Regions from separate parts of the Homo sapiens genome. Here region 2 is linked to region 1. The links come from fine-mapping of genetic effects on gene expression. Tissue or cell type: lung. Region 1 holds a variant in brackets; the other region holds the start of a gene. All regions are shown on one strand. Distances are between the middles of the regions.

The links. PIP is the estimated chance that this variant, and not a neighbour inherited with it, causes the effect.
Region 2: SLC12A7 starts here. The variant in region 1 is fine-mapped to the expression of SLC12A7 in lung (TOPMed, PIP above 0.99).

The regions. Positions count from the first base shown.
Region 1 is chr5:1,072,635-1,080,634 of GRCh38, reverse strand. SLC12A7 (solute carrier family 12 member 7) reads left to right here. Exons shown (of 24, transcript NM_006598.3): 10 at 1,139-1,237; 11 at 1,877-1,934; 12 at 2,628-2,802; 13 at 3,823-3,941; 14 at 4,399-4,497; 15 at 5,145-5,264; 16 at 5,964-6,068; 17 at 6,834-7,002. Among named protein-coding and RNA genes, the nearest start is that of MIR4635, 14 kb to the right of the region's middle. RefSeq lists enhancers at 6,559-7,113, 7,114-7,668. The variant G/A (reference allele first, on the strand shown) is at 3,070.
Region 2 is chr5:1,107,588-1,115,587 of GRCh38, reverse strand. SLC12A7 (solute carrier family 12 member 7) reads left to right here and starts at 3,525. Exons shown (of 24, transcript NM_006598.3): 1 at 3,525-3,720. The coding sequence starts at 3,597.

The sequences.
Region 1 (8,000 bases):
CACTCGGCCTTCTTGTCGGGACGCCCCTGACAGGCGCTGGCTGCTTGTGCAGCCTGCAGCTGCCCTTCTGGTCCCTTCTGGTCCCTCCCACGTCTGCTCCCGGACTTCATCTCAGCACATCCGAAAGCCCTGGAGCCCAGGGTCAGCTGCAGGGCCTGGCCACAGCGCTGGCTTCTCGTGTTTCCCTTGCCTCCACTGAAGGTGGGCCCGTCTTGCTATGGAGGGGGTGATCTGCCGGGGGTCCTCTCCCTGTACCTCCGCTCCAGCCTCCCCCGTCCGTCTGAGTGCGCTCCGCGCCGTGGGTGGAGGGCGTGGGGGCAGAGCCTCTGCGTGGCTCCTGGTGTCTCCGCGCCGTGGGTGGAGGGCGTGGGGGCAGAGCCTCTGCGTGGCTCCTGGTGTCTCCGCGCCGCGGGTGGAGGGCGTGGGGGTAGAGCCTCTGCGTGGCTCCGGGTGTCTCTGAGCCGCGGGTGGAGGGCGTGGGGGCAGAGCCTCTGCGTGGCTCCGGGTGTCTCCGCGGCACTGGATTGTGGGCTCTGCTGCCTCCCAGGCCACCCCGAGCAATGGGTGCTTCAGGCTGCGCCTTGGATGGGACCGAGCCAGGCGTGAAGTGGCCCCCACCGACCCGGCTTCCCAGAGCTTTGTAGGAGCCGATTGTGTGGAAACATCCCCGGCCGTGGCTCCCTAGAGCAAGGTGGTGCCACAGCGGGAGGGGTCGCAGCGTCTGCTGGCCTGGCTGGCTGGGCTGAGTCGTTCTAGGATCTCATTCCCAAAGTCCTTAGGTCCTGGGGGCCTGTGAGCCATTGCTCAGCACCGTCTCTGGGCTGACCCTTGGCCATGGGATTAACACAGGCTCCAGAGAAGCCCTGGGTGTGGGGGGCGTGGGGGTCAGTGACGGGGTCGGTTCTCGTCCTCGGATCCAGGGGAGCAGTAGACGTGGGTGCTCATCCGCGTGCCTGGGCCCGCATCCCCTCAGCCGCAGTATTGCAGCGTGGGCTGGCGGAGCTTGGACTGCAGCCTCGGCTGCAGCTCACGCTCGGGGTCTCCCCAGAGACCGCCTTTCCAGCTTTCTGGGCAGGGGCTGCCATCACATGGCACTGACTCCTCAGATGGGTCTTTGCAGCATTTTCCATGTTCACAGGTATCATGGCGGGTTCAAACCGGTCCGGGGACCTCAAGGATGCACAGAAGTCCATCCCCACGGGGACCATCCTGGCCATAGTGACGACGTCTTTCATCTGTATCCTTGGAGGGGTGCAGGCGAGGGTTCCAGCCTCTGCCTGGGGGGAGGCCCCCATGCCCTCCCCGGCTCAGCATCATACCCTCGGCCACCAGCATGTGACTTCCCAGGTTAGGCTGTGCTCTCACCACGTCATCCTCCCTGGGAGACGGGGCAAGGGCTGCTGTCAGGACCCTGGCTTCTTCACCACTGTGTGATGCGATCGTAGAGAAAACAGAAGCAGTCACCCTGCCGCGTGTGGACAGTGATGCGCAGCGGTGTGTGGGGTGTGCCGCCGGCAGGCTGGGCCCGCGGGGCCTCTGGCTTCTCAATCCCAAGGCTGCCTCTTTCCAGCCGAGCATTGTCCCCTCAGCATGGTCCCCTGCCAATCCCTGGCGGTCAAGCACCAGGCCAGGTGTGTGTCCACCACCCCAGGGCCCCGTTCTGTGGCGCTGGACAGAGCCCCAGGAGGGTGCGCTGAGGACACGGGGGACAGGACGTGCCCGGGATGGGATGGGATGCAGAACGGTCCCCGCCCACCTGGATCCTGCGGCCCGCTGGCCAGTGCATCTCCCCACCCACCCCACCCCACCCCACCCCACCCCCCGTACCTGAGGACCCTGCACCCACGGACCTGCCTTTCCTTGACGAGGGCTGTGGATCTCTCCTGCATTGTGCTGTTTGGGGCCTGCATTGAAGGCGTGGTCTTACGAGATAAGTACGTTTCCACCTGCAGTTTTCGTGCAAAGCCTGTAGTCTTCAAGGGTTTTCCTGAGGATGAATTCGGCTTTGAAATTACATCGCCCTAGGACTTCATGTCCGCGTGCAGAGCTGAAGGCGTCCTGGTCCCAGGGTTGGGATCCCTTGGTCTGATGTGTCGTCTCTTCCGCTGGAGCCTAGGGCCTGGGGAACCGTTCAGAGCCAACTCCAAGCCCTGATGCGGCTGGGGGCGCAGGCCCTTCCTGGGGAGGCCACAGGGGTGTGGACGGGTGAGGCTTGGCCCTGGGAGATCCCTCAGCCCTGCTGGCAAGTGGAGAAGTAGTGGGGTCCCAGGCAGGTCATCACTGACCCTGCATCCTCATGGGGTGTGCGTGTCTGGCAGCCCCAAGGCCCCGGGGGTCCTGGGTGGTCCCTGACTGAAGCTGATGCCAGGCTGGGTCTTCCCTGCTCCCAAGAGCGACCCTGAGGTGAGCAGGACCCCCTCCCCCGCTGAAGACCCTCCAGAGCATTCTGGCCATGCTGGGCAGAGCCTGGTGGAGGTTTCAGCCAACGGGGACTGGAGGCCGGGCCTCAGCTTTCCAAGGAGTCGCCCCCACTGCACTGGGCCCCTCGCTCTGGGTGGGAGAAGACATTTTGTCTGACTCAGGCTCACTTCTGAAAGCCGCCCGCCCGCCTGCCCGCCTGCCTGCAGGTTCGGGGAGGCCCTGCAGGGGAACCTGGTCATCGGCATGCTGGCCTGGCCCTCCCCCTGGGTCATCGTCATCGGCTCCTTCTTCTCCACCTGCGGTGCCGGCCTGCAGAGCCTCACGGGGGCACCGCGCCTACTGCAGGCCATTGCCCGTGACGGCATCGTCCCCTTCCTGCAGGTGAGTCCCGCACCCTCGTCGGGGGGACCCTGGAAGGTCAGGGTCGGGGGCTCTCCTCCCCTGCGGGATCCTCACAGTGCCGTGTGTGGGACGCATGCCCGCGGCTTGGACCCCATGGTGGTCATTCTGCCCCTGGCCACTGCACAGAGCATGGGAGTGGTGGGAGGTGGGTGGTGGGCAGAGGCAATTCTAGCCCTCCTGCCTGCAGGTCCCTCCGAGCTCGGCCCCGGGTGTGTCAGGAGCGGCTGTGAGGGCCCACAGCCACGT[G/A]TCCAGAGGTGCCTGGTCTGTTGTCTGGTCAGAAGCCCTCTGCCTGCCTGCCACATCTTTCTCTGTGTGGCTGAGCTCTTCAGCCCGTGGGAGGTGGCGTCACCAGCCACCTGCAGCCAGTGTGTGTGGCTGCTCTGAGGATTGCACGGACGCCCGCATGGGTCCTGTCCGTGTGCTGTGCCCAGAGCTGCCGATTGTGGCTCCTCCTGCTACCTGGGCCCAGGGGCAGCTGTGGGAAGGTCGTGGATGGCAGAGCCATCCTTGCCCGTCGCTGGTCCCTCGGCAGGGTGCCGACCCGCAGGGCCTTTGTGTGGTTGCATCTTCAGTCCCAGCCGGGCCTAGGGCATGGTGTCCAGGAAGGGGACAGGCACACAGGCCCCGTGGGCCTCAGCTTCTGGGAGGTGAGGGTGGCCTGATGAGAAAGGTCACCACAGGGTCTGGGGAACCGCGAGTGCCCTGGAGACGCTGGTCCTGTGTTGTGTGGTCGGGGAAACTGAGGCGGGGGGGCAGGCTGGGGCCACACAGGTTGCAGGCAAGCCGGGCGTAGGCACAGCTCTGAAGCCTCCTGGGCTGCAGCCCTTTGTCAGGGCTTCTTCCCAGGCCAGCCGCGTGATGTCCCGGGGACCTACTGTGAAAGGCGTTTCTGCTGGTCTGTGTCTTTAAGATTCATCTGGGCTAGACCTGACCAGCCTGCAGCTTCTCTCCTAAAAGGGTGGTGTCATCTGCCCCATCTTCCTGCCCTTCTCCCTGCAGGTGTTTGGCCACGGGAAGGCCAACGGGGAGCCCACGTGGGCGCTGCTGCTGACAGTCCTCATCTGCGAGACTGGCATCCTCATCGCCTCTCTGGACAGCGTGGCCCCGATCCTCTCCATGTGAGCCCCCACAGGACGGGGACCTGGGGATGGGTGTATGGGCCTGGAGCGTGGGGCAGTGTGGATGGGAGGTCCTGCTCAGGACAAGCAGTAGACAGGCATGGCCAGCTGTGGGCAGTCAGGATCCTGCCGGGAAGGGAGTTGCGCCGGGGAAGACAAGTACACAGGCCTCCAGGCAGCCGCCCGCTGGGGTCAGCCAGGGACAGTGTGGCTGGACAGACGGCTGCTGGGGAAGGGACGATGGCCCATCTCTTGATGGACCAGGTGGTCACAGGATGGCTGGAACCTGAGGGGGCCTGATTCGGAATCAGTCTGAGTCAGCTCACGTGCAGAGACAGACATGGGGAGACAAGGCGCAGGTGGGAGGGACAGTGACAAGGGTGGTCTCCCAGGTGGCAGTGACTGGGGGCTCAGGGGGGCCCAGTGGGCCCGTATCAGTGGCCGGCCGTCCCTGCAGGTTCTTCCTCATGTGCTACCTGTTCGTGAACCTGGCCTGCGCCGTGCAGACCCTGCTACGTACCCCCAACTGGCGTCCACGCTTCAAGTTCTACCACTGGTGAGGCCACTCAGCACGGGCGTGAGGAGCCCCACAGGCTGGGACACTGGGTGCCTCTGCCACTGGTGAGGCCGCTCAGCACAGGCGTCAGGAGCCCCACAGGCTGGGACACTGGGTGCCTCTACAAGGCCAGCTGCTCTGGGCCTGAAGACCCCAGCGCGTCCTTGACTGTTCCTTTGCGGAGTAAGCCCCTGCGCAGCTGATGAGACTGCACCTGAGGAAGGCCTCTGGTTACGAGGATGCCCAGGTGTCTGCATGTGCCTTGTACCTCCCGTGGTCAGCCCAGCCTTCCCAGGCTTGGGGCGTAGCCCATCAGGGCTGTGGGTCTTCTTAACTCCCCTCCCCAGGAATCAGGCGCTGGGTGGACGCTTCAGCCCCTTGTTGCATGCACAGCCGAGGTGCTGTGTGCACGCTGGGAGCTGGAGCTATGTACTGGGTTTTGGAGTGACAGCTCCCACAGGGGCCCAGGGAGCCACGTCACCCCTCAGAGGTGGTTGAGTACAGCCATGGTCGTCAGGCGTCAGTGACTGTTTTCCTAGTGTTAACAGAGAGTTTTACTGAGGGAGGGGCAGTGTCCGTGTGGTGGTGGCTGAGGTGTGGGGGCTGCATGGCGTTGGGCCGCCCCGAGCCACTTGCCCCGCCCCCAGGACCCTGTCCTTTCTGGGTATGAGCCTGTGCCTGGCGCTGATGTTCATCTGCTCCTGGTACTACGCGCTGTCCGCCATGCTCATCGCTGGCTGCATCTACAAGTACATCGAGTACCGCGGGTAAGCGCTGTCAGCCCCCCTTACAGACCCGGCGCACGGGAGGGCGGGCCCCTCTCATGCTATGCCTGGGGCAGCTCCCTGGAGGGGCCTCCCTGGGGCTTGAGCGTCGTGTGCCCTCACAGGGGCAGCTGGGAGCACGTCCAGGTGGGCTGTGTTGTGAAAGCTGGGGTTTCCCTCCCACTTCCAGCCAGGCCGAGGTGCCTGCACTTGTGGACAGGGTCTCCAGCCTGGAGCTCTGTCTCGTGCCGTCCTCAGCAGGCGGTGAGCCCACGGCTGACTATTCCTGCTACGTGTCTCGCGAGGTGTCCCCAGGTTGTGTCTGTACTCACTCGGCAGCCACAGGCGTCCTTCCCCGTGCCCCAGCACCCACCCTCCCTCCACCTGCACCCGCCTCGTGCCCGGGGTCCAGCCACTTCCCTGTCATGGGCCTCCTGTCCCCCGTCCTGTGAGGAAGGCACCTCACGCATGCTGGACGTAGACCTCGTTCCCTCCACAGCCACAGCACCCTCTGACCCGGTGGCTCCTAGGACGGGCTCCCTTCAGGGCAAGGGTGGGCATGGAGGCCTCCCTCCTCATCCAGGGACTTTTCCTGGGGGTCCTGTTTGCCCCAACTCACCTGCCCCCAGAAGTCCCCTTTCCCAGGTGGGAGAGGAGCCTCCAGGTACGCGGCTGGACAAACCCCGACTTCCTTTCCCACAGGGCCGAGAAGGAGTGGGGCGATGGCATCCGTGGCCTATCCCTGAACGCCGCCCGCTACGCCCTGCTGCGCGTGGAGCACGGTCCCCCCCACACCAAGAACTGGAGGTGAGCACCGCCCATGCCCCGTGGTCCTCAGACGCACAGAAGAGCTGTTTCTGAGGTCGGCCTTTGAGTGGGGACCTTTGAGTCTCAGGGGCCTCTCACCTTCAGCCGCTCAGGCAAGGTCTGGGGTGTGAACACTGCCTGGTGCAGAGCGGATGGCGCAGCTGGGGGCCGGGGGTGTCCCTGCTGCAGGGTGGGGGTGTGGGGAGCCGGCCCCTCTGCCAGCACAGCCCTGGGCTTGGGGTGGGAGAGGGTGGCTCCTGCTGAAGCAAAGGCCATCTTTGGGAAGCCTCTGCCCCTCAGGGCCTCGGCGGGGGCCTCAGGTGTGTGCCCCGGGCCATTGTCCCCTCAGGGGCCTCGGCGGGGGCCTCGGGTGTGCCCCGGGCCATTGTCCCCTCAGGGCCTCGGTGGGGGCTTCAGGTGTGTGTCCTGGGCCATTGTCTCACCTGTCTAGCATGTCACCTGTCCCACCTGTCTAACCTACCTGTTCTCCTGTCCTGCCTGGCTAGTGCCCACCTGTCCATCGGCCCTGCCTGTCCCACCTGGCTTCTGTGGCCTGTCTCACCTGTCACCTGTTCAACTTACCCCACGTGTGTCACGTTTCCCCATCCCATCTGTCACCTGCCCCTTTTGTCCCCTGTCCCGCCTGTCATGTATCTCCCGTCCCACCTGTGTCGTGTGCCCCGCCCGTCCCATCTGCCCTGCCTGTTGATGGGCCGTGCCCTGGTAAGCGTTGCCGTGGTAACAGCCGCCCCACCCTGGCTGCAGGCCCCAGGTGCTGGTGATGCTGAACCTGGACGCGGAGCAGGCCGTGAAGCACCCCCGCCTGCTGTCCTTCACGTCGCAGCTGAAGGCCGGCAAGGGCCTGACCATCGTGGGCTCGGTGCTGGAGGGGACGTACCTGGACAAGCACATGGAGGCTCAGCGGGCCGAGGAGGTGGGCCGGGCGGGGTCTGGGGGCCAGGCCTCTTTCCCACCCCAGCTGCACAGGAAACGTGCCCTGGCATGTCCTCATCGCAGCGTGTCAACACGGTGCTGTGCGTGGCGCTGCTGTGTTTTAGCCGTGGCGGTGGCTTTGAGCTCAGAGCAGCGCGCTAAGGCCTGGGAGCACCAGCCGCACCCCGGGAAGCTTGGGAGGTGTGAGGGCCATTAGCTTTCCAAGGGCGAACCCTGGGACCGCCTCCTCCCGCCATGGGTGAGCCCCGTCCAGAGCCGTAATCATGGTTCTGCTGCAAGCTCAGTCTCCCGCTGTTCAGGCTCACTGGGGGCTGCATAAGTGTGATGCCCGTGTGCTGGGGGCTCACTGGGGGCTGCATAAGTGTGATGCCCGTGTGCTGGGGGCTCACTGGGGGCTGCATAAGTGTGATGCCCGTGTGCTGGGGGCTCACTGGGGGCTCACTGGGGGCTGCATAAGTGTGATGCCCGTGTGCTGGGGGCTCACTGGGGGCTGCATAAGTGTGATGCCCGTGTGCTGGGGGCTCACTGGGGGCTCACTGGGGGCTGCATAAGTGTGATGCCCGTGTGCTGGGGGCTCACTGGGGGCTGCATAAGTGTGATGCCCGTGTGCTGGGGGCTCACTGGGGGCTGCATAAGTGTGATGCCCGTGTGCTGGGGGCTCACTGGGGGCTCACTGGGGGCTGCATAAGTGTGATGCCCGTGTGCTGGGGGCTCACTGGGGGCTGCATAAGTGTGATGCCCGTGTGCTGGGGGCTCACTGGGGGCTCACTGGGGGCTGCATAAGTGTGATACCGTGTGCTGGGGGCTCACTGGGGGCTGCATAAGTGTGATGCCCGTGTGCTGGGGGCTCACTGGGGGCTCACTGGGGGCTGCATAAGTGTGATACCGTGTGCTGGGGGCTCACTGGGGGCTGCATAAGTGTGATGCCAGTGTGCTGGGGGCTCACTGGGGGCTCACTGGGGGCTGCATAAGTGTGAT
Region 2 (8,000 bases), 35 kb before region 1:
TGCGCCCTGCCTGATACCCGACAGCAGGTTCCCAGCCCAGAAGGATGCAGATGGCGCACCAGGAGATGAGCCCCCCACCCTAACAGGAAAGCAGAAGTGGACTGGGGGGACCCGCGGACCTGGGGAGAAGCTCCGTGGGCAGAGGCACACAGATACCTGGAGGCAGCCTGCGTCTGGTGAGAGCCCTCCCAGGCCACAGCCCTGATTCCAAGCCGTGGGCACGAGCGGCCTCCTGGCTTGGAAGCTGGCATTGGGTGTCCGTCCTAATCCATTAGAAACTCCACCCCAGGGTGGCAGGCAGCAGGGACTGTTTCGAGAATCTACACACAGAATGTAACCACCATCGGCTACACTTTCGCACTAAATCCCAGGGTTCCCCTGGCTGTGCCCTGCACACGGCCAAGAGGCCATCGCAGATGACCAGGCTCACATCATAAGGATGCGAGATTGCATTTGAAGAGGCCCCCTGGGCAAAGCTGGACACCGATGCTTGGAAAGGGCACTAATGGTGATCGACTGAGACCCACCAATGTGTTTCATCAGCGATGTACAAATATACTTGGGAGATTGTCGGGAACCAATTCACCGTTGTGGAAACTGACAAATGAGGGAGAGGCACCCTTGCCCTGCCTTTCCTGTGGGCACCATTATCCAGATGGCCAGACGGACAAGATGAGCCTCTCCCTCCAGTGAATTCATGACGAAGCCACCACGCACTGGAAAATCACCATTTTGCTCCATGAATCTGTCGATTCAGACATCAAGCACCAACGACTGCGGACGGAGGAGCTACCACCAGACAGTGCGTGGCTCCCTCTGCGAGCCCCCGGCCTTGCCAGGGGACTGGACCCGGATCCCAGCAGTCCCCTGGCTCCAGGTGCCCACTTCCAGGAGACGCAGAGGCCTGCACCGAAAGATGCAGCTCCAACCCAGGCCTCGGGTACCTCCACGTGTCCGAGGGCCACTTCCTACAACAGGTGCCGGGTACAGAAAAGGACAGAGGGATGGAGGTGGGTAGGAAGAGAGCACTGAAAGTCACACAACGCACATTTAACCCCAGGCTGCCGTGTGGGAGGATATACGTGGACACGGAAACCCACAGAGCGAAGGGAGGGGCCACCAGACCCCTAGGGATGGGCTACTGATGGGATGGGAGGGGCCTGCAGCGGCTTCTGGGCTCCGGCAAGGGTCTCTGTCTTGACCCGCAGGTGCTTACAGGGTGCTGATCCCTGTCGTGACTCACCTGATTAGAATGCAAAAGGCAGCAGACCTCACCCCCCACCCGAGGTCTCCCACAAGTAAGATCTAAGATTTAAACAAGAGAAGCCACCTGCCTTCTGCCTGGCAGGGCTGGGCACCCACCCAGGTGCTTCAGCCATGGCCCCTGGTCCTAGTCAAGATTTTGTAATCACAGAGAAGACCACCCTCGGAGCTGCCACAGGACCCTAAACTCCTGGGCCTCAGTTTCCTCCTCTGTAAAATGAAGCTGATGAGTCCTGAGTCCGGGAGCTGGCCCTGGCCACAGACCCTCCAAACCAGCTCCTCTGAAGGTCCACAGCCAGCACATGGCGGGCAGCCGGCCCTGGGGTCCTGGGGTGTGAAGCAGAGCTTGGATGTGCGACGGGAGCCCTGCACATCTGTTGCTCCTGCTGGCATCACTTGGGAAGGCCTCGTGCCCACCCTGAGCTCTGTCCAACCCTCGGGAATAGCGCTGGGTGGCAACCAGGGTTGAATGTACAGAAGCCCCTGCTGGGGTGACTGAGGAGAGGGTTTACCCAGCACCCTAAGTGTGAACCCTATAATTGACCCCATTGGGCACTTCTGTTCCCACCCCCTGGATCTTTTTAGCAAAGCCAGCCCTCCTCATAAGGATGCCTGGGAACTATTTTATCTTCTGGGGAGGTGATGGTTTCCTACCTTCCAACCCACTGACCCAGGGAGGCAGCTGACCTAGCACCATCCACAGCCCTGAGCTCCCTTTGGTGGGAGGTGGGGTGAGAGTGTGGAGCAGGCACAGCTCCAGACACCCAGGCCAGAGGAACCCCCACCTCTGCAAGGGCTGGTGCTGGATGGGCGACGTTCCAGGAGGGTCCCAGGCCTACAGCTTCTGCCCAGAAGAGTCCATGGGGCAAAGGGGTAGAACCCTAGGCCACCCCAGGGCATGACTGGCTTTACTGGAAATGGCTGGAGAGGTTGGGCTTGCGTTCCTTGAACCCACAGAGCCCGGTGATCCCACAGCCCGGAGGCCATCACTCCCCTCCAGCTGCCTTTTAGGATTAGACAGGCAAGCGGCTAAAACATGGCCAGGCCATACCCATTTTCCACGTGACAAGAGGCTGTGGCCGTGTTTGCCCACACCACCTGTGTTTCTGCTTTGTTGTCGTACAGCAGTTGTGGGTGATTAGGAATAAAGGCTGACTCATTGCACCTGTGTGCCATAGCATTTTAGCCCAATTCCCCATTGACGGACATCTGATTGTTCCGTTTTTCATGAGTCATTTGTTGAGAAATGTGCCAGGTGCTGGCCGGTGGTATCCTGGTGTCTGCCTGGTGGGTTCTGGAACTCCACCTTCCCTGCATCACCCTGTGAGCTTCTGGAACATTTCCCAAGGAGGGAAGGGAGGGTTCTAGGGCAGGGGCCGCGGGGCACTCCTGGGGCAGGTGTGGAGGAGACTGGGGTCTTCGTGGGTGGTATTTGTCATGGGTGGGGGGGGGGACTCCCTCTACTGGGTTAGGTCCCTAAACTGGAGCTGGACCAAGCTCCGGAGTACCCCACCCCCAGGCTATCCAAGGCTCCTTCCACTGGAGTTGCCTTTGCAGCCAGGTTGGGCTAGCCAGGAGCCAGGCTAGGAGCCCAGGGTCTGAGCGGGTGTTGACAGCCTGGAGTGGGTGGGCGGACTGTGTGGGAGGTGGGTGCTGGAGGATGGCAGGGGGGAACAGGAGGGGGAAGAAGGAGGGGTAGGGGGCTGGAGCAGGAAATGGGGGGCAAACAGGAGGGGGTGCGGGAGGGGGCGCAGAAGGAGGAGGGGCCCAGCAGGAGGGGGTGCAGAAAGGGCAGGGGTTCCAGCAGGAGGGGGTTCATAGGGGCAGGGGGGCCCAGCAGGAGGGGGTGCAGGAAGGGTGGGGGGGTGCAGGAGGGGTGAGGGGTTCCAGCAGAAGGGCGTGCAGGAGGGGCAGGGGGCTGGAGCAGGAGTGGGGGGTCGGGGAAGGGGACAAGAGGGGAGGCGGGGAGGGGGCCGGGGAGGGCGGGGAGGGCGGGGAGTTCCAGCAGGAGGGGCAGGGGGCTGGAGCAGGAGGGGGTGCAGGAGACTGAGCGGGGATTCGCGGGCTCTGCGATGGTCGGGAGCGCAGGCAGCGAAAGCCCCGCGTCCCGGGTCGCGGCGGTCAGACAGACGCAGCCTGGGTTGGGGTCCCTGCAGGAAGTCGCCGCGGGCCAACTTTTCGTGGGGCCGCGGGGCAAGCAGGTGAAGTCACGTGGCCCGGGCGGGGCGGGGCGGCTCGGTCGGACCCCGCCCCTGCCTCCAAGTCCCGTGGCGTCGGCGGGAGCGGCGCAGCGCGGGCCGGGCCGGGACGGGGACTGTCGGCTGCAGGCGGCCATGCCCACCAACTTCACCGTGGTGCCCGTGGAGGCTCACGCCGACGGCGGCGGGGACGAGACTGCCGAGCGGACGGAGGCTCCGGGCACCCCCGAGGGCCCCGAGCCCGAGCGCCCCAGCCCGGGTGAGCGCGGCCGCACCTGGCCGGACAAAGGCCGAGCGCCCCGAGCGCGGGTCTGGGCCCGGCATCCGGGAGCGGAGGCGGGCGGCGGGGCCGGGGGTACAGGAGGCGCCCCTTCCCGCGCCCCCACCGCCTGTTCTCGGTCCCCCACGAGGGCCCCCACCCCACGTTAGTGGCAGCGCTAGGGGGCGAGGGGCCCTGCCAGGGCTCCCGGTACGGTCAGCTCGGGTGGGACCGGGGGCAGAGGTGTGGACGCCGCTGCTGGTAGCCATGGAAACGGGGAGGGGCTGGAGCGCGCCTCCGGAGGGAGCCCGGGCCCCTGGGTGGTCCCTAGTGGGACAGGGGTGGCGGTGGAGACCCGGGCGGTTCGGGAGCCGGGGCGTCCTGCGTCCCCCGCGCTCTCCCTTCCCCTGCGCCGCGGCCGTCCGGTAACACTAGCCCGGGCCGGCCCGTCCTGCCCCCGCCTGACCCTGGAGGAGCCGCCCACCCCCCAGAGGCGGAACAGGAAGGACTGCGCCCTGGCTGGGGAGGGGGCAGCCACCGGGGCCTTGCTCAGGCCGCGTCCTCCGTGTTCCCGTCCCCCGTTCCGGGAATCTGGAGGTTTCTAGCACTTTCACTTTCTCTAGGGGGTGGGGACGGGGCTGGGGAGAGAATCCCCCAGCCCTGTTCCCTCCATCCTGGCTCCAAATCCCAGTTACTCCCCGGATCTCAGCCCCCTCTAGAAACCGGAGGCTCTTAGGCCCTTCCATCCGGAGTCTCTGAGAAGGTGTCCGGACTCAGTCCAGCCCCCACCCCGCGTGCTGGCAGTGCCCGCATGTGCCCGGGTCTCATGCAGTGGGTGGCAGCCTCCCTGCTCCCTGGCAGTGGAAGGAAGGTGAGGTCTGTCCAGGGACAAGTCCGGTGCCAGACCCCAGATCCTTCCTAACCCACCATCCCGGGCAGGAAAGGCCAGACATCCCCTCCAGGCAGTTTAGGAACCCGGAGACACGGGTGGGGACCCACCGTGAAGGCAGTGGCCTGGTGGCCTGGGGTGCGTCATCAGGGTCCCCGTGGCGGGCGAAGAGTGGTCTCAGCTTCCTCTGCACAGAGGCCAGCCCAGATCTTGGAAGTGGTCAGGCGGGGCGCCAGGCTCAACACCAGGTGAAGTGCTAACTAAGCAGGGTCCGTGAGTCCAAGCCCCTTCTCTCCAGTCACCACCGTGGAGGCAGGAAGCACCAAGGAGTGTGGGCCCTGGCGTGGTCTTTCTGTGTGAGCTTTGTAGCAACGCCCCCGGAACGCACTCAGAAGGAGCCTCTTCTTGTCTGGCCGGCCCCTTCTCAAGGCTGATCAGGTTCACTTTTGTCTTTAGACTGTAAGTGTCATTTGCTTTTAAGCCAGAGAGAATTTTGTGCTTGTTCGTTTTCTTGTCTCTTCTACTCTCAAGGCTGTTGAGCAGTGCCCTGGGCCTGTGTCTGCCCAGCAGGAAGTGGCCCTGGCTGAGCGCTGCCCATGTCGCTGCCCGCGCACTCAGGTCCTGCTACGGGCGTGTCAGGAGGCTCCCTGGCCTTCATGAAATTGAGAACGGGAGGGCATGGGCCAGGTGTGGGCTTCTGGACACTTTTGAGGGTGGCCCTGTGGTGTGAGCTGAACTTGGGAGATTTCTCCGAACTGGCAGAGAACTTGCACCTGGCGCTTTTGTGCTGGACCCGCTTCCTACTTCCACAGAAAGGGCCCGGTGCCCAGCCACTGCCAGGCTGTAACGGGCACGCAGCTGCCCTTCGGAATCCACTTGATCACATCCTGATCTTCAGCCCACAGAGGTGCGGCGAGGAGTCCCGTGATGGGCACGGAGCCTGGGGAAGGAGGCACAGGCTTTGCTTTTTGGTGGTGGTTGGGGGCGGGGGTCCTGCAGAAGCCGGAGCCCCTCCCAAAGGCCTTCTGTGTGGGGTCCACACCACAAGGTCACAGGCCAGGTCCAAAACTGTCCGGCCACAGAGTTACCAGCACCCAAGCTCTTCCTGACTCCATTGCCGTTCCCCTGAACGGTCTGTGGAGGTACTGGAGCTTCTGGGCTGGCGCCTGGGTGACGGCGAAGCAAGTTTGGGGGGCCTGGTGGGCTGATCCTAGGCACTGCCAGGTGGGCGTGGAGAGGGCGTCCTGAGCCACCCCAACTTGAGGAGCAGGGGCCTTGGTGTCCCCAGCCTGGGTTGGGGGGTTCTGGGGAAAGAGGGGTAGATGCTGCTGCCCGGGCTGCCTGGCTCGACCCAGAGCCCAGCAAGGCCGCGTCTGCCCAGCCTGGCTCCAGGGGCCTTCTGTCCCCGACCCCTGCAGCTTCCCTGCTGCTTCTGGTGGAGCCTCTGCGGGAGGCGTCCTGTCCCGGGGATGGGCACTGTGCCCTCAGCACTTCTTGGGACGGAGCTTTTATTCTTATGTGAAATACCTCGTCTTGAAATGAGAAGGACGTGTTAACCCTCAGTTTCTCAGTGGGGTGGTTTTTTGAGAGTAGGAGGTGGGAGGACACTGCTGGGGGCCGGCTGCGTCTCGTCCGACTTCAGGGTAGAGTGGGTTTTGTAACTGACTTGGGGGAGCCCACCCTTCCTCCGTGACCACATCAGGGTAGACTCACTCCTTCCCAGGTTGTAGGGGTGCGTCCAGAGGCCTCGGAGACCCTGGGAGGGGTGGGAAAGGAGGGCTGGCCAGTGCCCCGGCCTGTCTGGAAGGTGCAGCGTGCAGAGCCTCTGTCAAGGTCCCACAGGCCCTGGCCACCCACTGTCTAGGAGGGACTTCCACTCGTCTGGGGCTCCCTGGGCTGGGAGAGGGTGGGTCCTGCCTTGTACCCCCAGGTCTCCCACCCTCAGCTGGGGCTCTCCCAGGTTTGCCGGGAGCTTCTTCCTGGCTTGGGCGCCACTTCCCTCTTTGGGTTCCGTTTCTGAGATTTTCCACTGTGGCTGAGCTCGTGTCGGTTGTCCAGGGGCGGTCCTGCCTCCCTCTGCCCCTGGCCGCTGACAGAGGCCCGGTTGCGTGGTCAGTGGCCTGCCCGTCCCTCCTGCTCCAACTACCTACCGTGTCCGTGTTGGGAGCCCCCTCCCAAAATCTGAGGACAGCTAGAGCTGCCGCTTTGTCCTGGGCCGTCCTCGCCTGTCGGGTGCTGGGTGCCATGCTCTGCACTGCCCTTGGGAATGGCGAGACGGTGCACGCCGGTCGTGCTGATCTGGGGTCCCCTTTGGGGATGCAGGGACTTGGGGGATCACGCATTAGATAGGGGGACCACACACAGAGCGTCCAGGTTCTGTCCTGCCGAGTAGGGACAGAGAGCTCTCGTTGTGCCCAGATTTCAGGAGGGCGTTCCCGACACGGACATGGGAGGCAGTCGGAGCAGGAGGGACAGGCAGGCTGTTGACCCCGCGGCTGTGCCCGGGAGCCCCTGCAGCAGCTGGGCACTGCGTTGCGGGAACGGAAGGTCATGGGTATGTGGTGAGCAGGCAGGGAGGCTACAAGACATGCATTTTGTGTATCGAGTTCCCTTTTTAAAACCAAAGGAAACAAGATACACAGGAACGCCGTGGCTGCTGGGCATCCAGGCCGGGGCCTGTGCTTCCTCCTGCGCCTGACATACTCCCAGGCTGTCTCCCGGCAAGAGGCTCTCCTTAGCAGGCATGCGGTAAAGCATGGTGCTTTAGGTCAGCTGGCCGGGTCCATGTGTGCGGGCACCTATGTGCCTTGTGAGCGTGCAGGTGTATCCACGTGTGAGCCATGTGCTTGCACTGTGTATATGTGCACATATATGTACACACGTGTGCATACATGTGTACTGTGCTCTTGCACAGCTGTGTGCTGTGGGCATGCTCACGTGTGTGTGTGTATGTGTGTGTTTGTATGCTGTGGCAGGTAGAGAGGGGCTGGGGCTTCCTCCACAGCAGAGGGTCACGCGGTGTTGGGTGTTGGGTATCCGTTCCCTCCCCCTGGTCTAGGCCCATCAGTGAGTGGTGAGGGGCTCCCTCTCCTGGTGTGGCCTCGTGTTCAGGTCTGAACCTGCTCCTGGGCCTCTGATCATATGAGGAGACCTTTGCCTCGTGGACTCAGGTTCATGGTTTCCTCTTCTGCAAAGCTCCCCAGGCTTCTCTGAGTGGGCGAGGCCAAACGGATTCCACGGTGGTTTTCTGTCTAGCGTTGGACACCAGATCCCCTTCTTAGAGTGCGTGGCTTTCTCAGTGCCTCTCCCGTGGTCTGGATGGCTGTCGGGAAGGTGGTGCCAAGGGGAGGGCCAGGTGCTCAGGCCTGGGTGCAGGGCGGCTGGTCGGGGC